2 linked regions of the Homo sapiens genome follow. The protein of the gene in region 1 purifies or fractionates together with the protein of each later gene. This does not show direct contact. Each region holds a gene or a part of one and is shown on either strand. Other genes may lie near its edges.

What was found.
Region 2: the proteins of TMEM213 (region 1) and GLMN purify together in Homo sapiens (affinity purification with mass spectrometry; 2 studies listed by BioGRID and IntAct, with this or other methods). This does not show direct contact.

The regions. Positions count from the first base shown.
Region 1 is NC_000007.14:138,804,127-138,807,586, forward strand, and holds the end of TMEM213 (transmembrane protein 213 precursor), read left to right. Parts: 3' UTR 1-2,633; downstream 2,634-3,460.
Region 2 is NC_000001.11:92,264,272-92,268,098, forward strand, and holds part of GLMN (glomulin), read right to left. Parts: intron 3,732-3,827; coding exon 3,642-3,731; intron 2,471-3,641; coding exon 2,429-2,470; intron 2,323-2,428; coding exon of another isoform or gene 2,269-2,322; intron 2,222-2,268; coding exon 2,148-2,221; intron 368-2,147; coding exon 283-367; intron 1-282.

The sequences.
Region 1 (3,460 bases):
TATTGCATTCTGTCCTCACTGTCTTGAGGATCTTCCTCCCCGGCTCATCACTCCCCATGGGCAGCTGCCAGGGTAGGCGCTGTCACCTTCTGTTGACAACAGTCAGTAGCTCCTAAGGACTAAAACTGTTCAGCCCAGCATTCAGCTCTTTGGAGGAGTCCATCTGTCCCCCAGCACATCCAGGAGTAAGGATTCCGACTGGTCCACTCCTCATCCTGGTGTCTTCAGCTTCTCTGCTGCCATGTTCTTTGCTGGGATGGCTGCTTCCCAACTCCACCTCCAGAATCAAGGATATTCCTCCAAGCCCAGCTCGAATGCTTGATCTGCCTGGAGCCTTCCTGGTCATCCTTGGGTGACCTGGAGCTGGTGCTGTTAGAGCACTTCTGCTCTGCCCTGATGTGCAGTTGTTGTGAATGGGCCACTCCATAGTTTATCCTTCCTCACACCCCTGGGGCATAGTACCCTATTCAAGTTTGTCCAATGAGTGCATGGGTGAATTAATGAATGAATGAACAAATGAGTCTTTGCCCTAGACAACTTAAGGTCCTCACTCTGCATTAGGAGCCTCCATTTTTCTCCAGATGGTTGAAATAACCAGCCTCTGAAGGAGCCAATGGTTTGGTCACTGCTCTCTCAGCAAATTACAGTCACTGTCACTTAGCATGGAGAGTGGACGTTGCACATCACTGTGAAACCTTGCAGAGGAGGAGAGGGCAGGTTCATCAGAAGAAAGAAAGGACAAAATGACTCCTTATGAAGCATTTTGTGCCTTCTGTGAGAAAACATGTATTTAGATCAGATAAACTCTAGTCAAAATACAAAAAGGAAAAATGAAAGACCTCTGAAATAGGAACAATCTCTTGAAGAGGCAAATGACTCAAAACTGCTCAGTGGCTCTTTCAGAAAATCTAAGTAAAGTTCCCTGACAACAGAAACTGAAGAGATTGCCTGGTTCATCTTGTAGTCTTCCAAAACAGCAGATAATTTCTGAATCTCAGATGTTGAATCAGTGCAACGGGATGGATTTCTTGTTCCTAAGTGTTAAATGATCACATACATAAAAGAGTCTGAGCCTGAGCAACATAATGAGACCCTGTCTCTACAAAAAAAAAAAAAAGATTAGCCAGGCGTGGTGGTGCACACTGATAGTCCCAGCTACTCAGGAGGCTGAGGGAGGCGGATCACTTGAGCTAGAGAGTTCAAAGCTGCAGTGAGCCATGTTTGTGCCACTGCACTCCAGCCTGGGCAACAAAGTGAGACCCTGTCTGGAAAAAAAAAAAAAAAAAGCGTCTGCATAATTCCTGGTGCATTTTGTGGATATACAATATGAGTATGTGTTCCATGTTTTCAGAAATTCAAAGGAAGCGTTTCCACAATATGTGACGGTTTATTTCCCAAGAGATGAAAAGATTCATTAAGGTGCATGCTTTGATTTAACATCTGCAAACATTTAAAAAATATAACAGTGTGTGACGTAGCAGTGAGAGTACTATCTTTTTTTAAAAAGGGAAATTAAGATTTATTTCTGGCCAATGTGAACAGAAATAAGTCACTTTATCTCACTGAGCACCAATTTTACACGTGGAAAATAGAAGAATTGGACCAAATCAGCAGTTTCAAGCTGAGTTGCAAAAGTTCATGGAACCATTTCAGTCGCTTCATGGAATCGGGGTAGGCATGAGGCCCGTTGTTCTTTCAACCTGAGCCGCATGGCTCTTGTGTCTTTAAACCTTGTGGTAGGATTTTTTTTTTTTTCTGCTTTAATAAGTGAAGGGTCAGGGCACCAGTTGGTGTCTGAGATGCCCTCCAGTCTGGGGAACCCCGTAGATGCTTAGACTACTTTGAACTGAAGTATGTGCAGTCTGCCATCTCACATTAAAATGTAGGCATTTTGTCAATTGCTTTTCTTTCATCTGCACAAGAGGAAGGAGAGAACGAATCAATACAACCACTCTTTTCCTTGAGACTGCAAAGAAAATGGTTCTATAGTTTGATGGTTCTACTTCCCAGATGCTACCTCTCAGATTTATTCTCAACAGAAAATTTTTTGATTACAGCAGACCAGATCTTTATCTGTCAATAAGTTAAAAAAGATAATCTGGGCTGGATGTGGTGGCTCACTCCTGTAATTCCAGCACTTCGGGAGGCCAAGACAGGAGGATTGCTTGAGCCCAGGAATTTGAGACCAGCCTGGGCAACATGGCGAAACCCCACCTCTACAAAAAAATACAAAAAAATTATTTGGGACTGGTGGCGCATGCCTGTGGTCCCAGCTACTCGGGAGGCTGAGGTGGGAAGATCATTTGAGCCCAGGAGGTTGAGGCTGCAGTGAGCTATGATCTTGCCACTGCACTCCAGCCTGGGTGACAGAGTGAGACCTTGCCTCAAAAAGAAAAAAATAAAGAAAAGAAAATCTGAAAGGGAAAGCAGGCATCAACTTCCAGGGATCTAATAACTTCCTAACTTAAAGCAACAGAACTTACCTAACTTTTGGACTTTTCATTTTAAAACTTTGCCTCTAGCAGTGGACACTGTCCTCAACACAGCTACAGTTTATGTAACACAGAGTCCATATTATATGGGGCATGTCTGTATCAAAATGTCATATGTAGAAATAAAGTATTAAATATTAAGGTGTGGCATAATTATCTGACTTTAAAAATCATCATTTAGTGGCCGGGCATGGTGGCTCACGCCTGTAATCCCAGCACTTTGGGAGGCCAAGGCGGGCAGATCACCTGAGGTCAGGAGTTTGAGACCAGCGTGGCCAACACAGTGAAACCTTGTCTCTACTAAAAATACAAAAAATTAGCCGGGTGTGATGGTGGGTGCCTGTAATCCCAGCTACTTGGGGGACTGGGGCAGAAGAATTGCTTGAACCTGGGAGGCAGAGGTTGCAGTGAGCCGAGATCGGGCCACTGCACTCCAGCCTGGGTGACAGAACGACACTCTGTCTCAAACAAATAAGTTAATTAAATTAAATAAAAATCATCATTTAAAAATCTATTCCTGGCCAGGTGCAGTGGCTAATGCCTGTAATCCCAGCACTTCGGGTGTCTGAGGTGGGTGGATCACCTGAGGTCGGGAGTTCGAGACCAGCCTGACCAACATGGAGAAACACTGTCTCTACTAAAAACACAAAATTAGCTGGCATGGTGGCACATGATTGTAATTCCAGCTACTTGGGAGGCTGAGACAGGAGAATCGCTTGAACCTGGGAGGCAGAGGTTGCGGTGAGCCATTGCACTCCAGCCTAGGCAACAAGAGCAAAACTCCATTTCAAATATATTCCTTTTTATATGCATGACACCTAATGCAAACAAAACAAATATACAATTTTTTATTAACAAATAAATGTTACAGCATGTAAGATTAATCAGCTGGACCTGGTGGTCCACATCTGTAGTCCCAGCTGCTGTGGAATCTGAGGAGGGAGGATGACTCGGGCCCAGTAATTAAT
Region 2 (3,827 bases), on another chromosome or scaffold:
CACTGCACTCCAAGCTGGGTGACAGGCGTGAAACCCTGTCTCAAAAAAAACAAAAACAAAAACCAAAACCTCAAAGAATACAATTTAAACTTATAGTTAACTAAATTTCCAAATTCAGAGTTTTTAAAACATAGTAGAAATAGGGGAAAAAATATGCCTTAATAATATTTAAGTAATAGTAATACTAGAGATAGAGCAATAACTCACATTAATGTATTCTACATATGAATAAATATACCCTACGAAATAAATTGGTAATTGACACTTTGGCTATGTTCTTACCTTTAATGACATGTCAATTTGATTTTTGATATTTTGAATAATAAAAGCCTCCACACCTGAGTGATTACTTGTATTCAATAAGCACCTTGAAAGCAAAATTACAATAGATGTGAAATTATCCTGGACAGCATTAGAATTAAATGGTGATAAAAGTTTTACAAATTCAAAGAGGCCATGTGTTACTTCTAGGAATAAAAACCCCACAGTAATGGTAATTAGCAAGGTCATCAACCAATTACAAAGTCACCTGTAATAGTTATTGCTCTCACTAAATGGTAAATTCTTATTTATTTTATTTTACTTTTTTAGACAGAGTCTCGCCCTGTCGCCCAGGCTGGAGTGCAGTGGCACAATTTTGGCTCACTGCAACCTCCGCCTCCCGGGTTCAAGCGATTCTCCTGCCTCAGCCTCCTGAGTAGCTGTGATTACAGGCGCCCGCCACCGTGCCTGGCTAATTTTTTGTATTTGTAGTAGAAACAGGGTTTCACCATGTTGGCCAGGCTTGTCTCAAACTCCTGACCTCGTGATCCGCCTGCCTCAGCCTCCCAAAGTGCTGGGATTACAGGCATGAGCCACCACACCCGGCCGGTAAATACTTATTTATAACTGGATCTTCCAACAAGCCATTTCTATCAAACCAAAATTTGAATATTTTTATGAACATAGTTACAATAATTTAACATGGCAAGAAAGGGCACTAACATAATGGTCTAAAAAATCCCCAAATTATTTCCTGTGAAAGTAGTCCAGTGCTAGAGTAGCTTAATTGCAAAAAAAAAAAAAAAACTAGATATGACTAGCTTAAGAAAAAAAGGGGATTTATTGGTAGAGATACACATAGAACAGAACAGGAAAGCCGGTATAATACCTAAGAATTGAGATTTCATAAACTTGCTCTTACTATCAATAGAAAACAAGAAAAGATAGAATCAAGAGTGTTGGCTGGGCATGATGGCTCATGCGTGTCATCTCAACACTTTGGGAGGCTGAGGTGGGTGAATCGCTTGAGCCCAGGAGTTTGAGACCAGCCTGGGCAACATGGCAAAACCCCATCTCCACAAAAAAATTAGCTGGGCATGATGGCATGCACCTGTAGTCCCAGCTACCTGGGAGGCTGAAGCGGGAGGATCACCTGAAGCTGGGGGGCCAAGGGTGAAGGCTGCAGTGAGCCATGATCACACTGCTGCACCCGCCAAAAAAGAACAGTACTAATATTGGCCAATCCCAGGTAAGACATTTTAGCAAATCCAGCCTGATGCCCAATTTTATCAATAAAGTTTTACTGGAACACACCCATCCCCAATACAAAGTCAAAGTTGAGCACTTGCAACAGAGACTGTATAGCCCATAAAACCTATATTTACTATTTGGCTCTTCACAGAAAATTAATTAGAAAGTTTACCAATCTTTAACTTAGAGAGTTGCTAGAATCTTATCCACCTCAAAGAGCAGTATTAGTAAGCTCTTACTATTAACATAGTGCATAGCCTATCAAAGTTGTAATTCCAGAGCCATCAATTTGAACTGTGAGTAATGGAGATTAGTGACATACATAAAGTTCCAGCAGGAGCATCATCAATCTCAGTTTAATTATTTTTAAGTCTATTTCAAATTTAGAGTATTCCAATTGATTGAACTGCAATATATACTATTAGTCATACAAAATATAGACATATATATAGTATGTCTGAAATATTTGATTAACCCTTTCTCTAGCCATCACTGAGAATTTATAATATGGGTTCCAACCAGAGTTGAATTACATGTAAAACATACCGACATACTATGCCCTAAAACAATTACATGGCATTAACATGACTTTTAATCAACCACACACTTAGCAATTAGCCATGCTTGATACATACCTAAATAATGTATATTTGCCTTGTGAATCCAACTTGTTAATATACAGCTGAAGCATAGCTAAACTCTTTTTCCTCTAAAATGGAACAAACAATATTATTATATAAAATGAATAAAGCTTACCCAGACTTCATCACTATCCATTTTATGCATGTAATACATCCACACTTGTACCTCCTAAATAAAAATTTCACAAATTAAAATTTTTAAAAAGAAAATTAAATTATTTGTCAAATTTTCTCACTGTAACTCATTATTCTTTAGTCACCAAATATTTACATACCAGTGTCTCAATGGGGCAAAGTGTCATTACTTTCACTAAGCCCTGGAAATAAAAAAATGTAAAATTCAGATGTAAACAGATTATACTGACTGCAAACAAACAACTATAATACATCAATAGGATACTAAAAATTCAGAGAAGTGAGGGTAGGAGATTTAAAAGTGAAGTAAATTAATTTTTCCCTAAGCCTTCCATTCCAGAAAGCTAACTACAATTGATTTTTTAAGTGATATTGAGTAGAGTGTCACACAGTGTACTTTTAAAAGCAAACGATAATTTTCAATTATGTCTACAGTGGCAAGAAAATGAAATCAAATCTACAGAAATATAATTTATTAATTAAAAACAATCAAACAATATGTTAACAAAAACCATGTTTTTCTATTTAAATATTAGGAAAACCAGTTCCCACACTGAAATCTAAGGATTTCCTTGGATATCATAACTAACAAAGAGGATTGGGCAAAATAAACCATAGGAGGGAAAAACACAATGTGTATTAGTCTTTCTGGTAATGAGTCAGTGGATGCCTTAGATGGAGTCCTGAGAACTTGAGTTATGAGAAACATAAAGAAGCTTCATTTTCCAAGATCCCTACAGAAATAAAGTGTTAAAAGAAGAAAGTTATGCTTTTCTACTGGATGCTGTGCTATCAATAATGGTGGCCTCTAATAGCTATTCGTGTTTAAATAAATTAAAATTTAAATTTGAAACTTAGTTCCGGCTGGGTGTGGTGGCTCACACCTGTAATCCCAGCACTTTGGGGGGCTGAGGCAGGCTGATCACGAAGTCAGGAGATCGAGACCATCCTGGCTAACACAGTGAAACTCCGTCTCTACTATAAATACAAAAATATTAGCTGGGTGTGGTGGCGGGCGCCTGTAGTCCCAGCTACTCGGGAGGCTGAGGCAGGAGAATGGAATGAACCCAGGAGGTGGAGCTTGCAGTGAGCTGAGATAGCACCACTGCACTCCAACCTGGGCGACACAGCAAGACTACACCTCAAAAAAAAAAAAAATAGTTCCTTAGTCACATTTCAAGTGTTCAGTTTGGCTAGTGGCTTTCATATTGTCAAAGTTCTACTGGACAGCATTACACCAGAGTTTTCAAAGGTTGCAGAGAAAAGAGTGGGAAAGGAATCAGAAAAGACCTTACTTTAAGTTCAGAACAGGCAAAGGGCTATTTTCAATATTAGAATACATATTTTATTTACCTGAGGTACAGTAAGAAAACTCTTGATTTCTAAGTACTGGTAAAGTAGACTATTGTCTTCTATTCTCAATAAACTATTCTCCAGCAGCTCCTACAGATTAAAATATATGCAGATACATATATAGTGAAGTCAACAGCTGTTATTTGTTGACATAACTATGTATTTAAGTTATAATGGGAACAAACA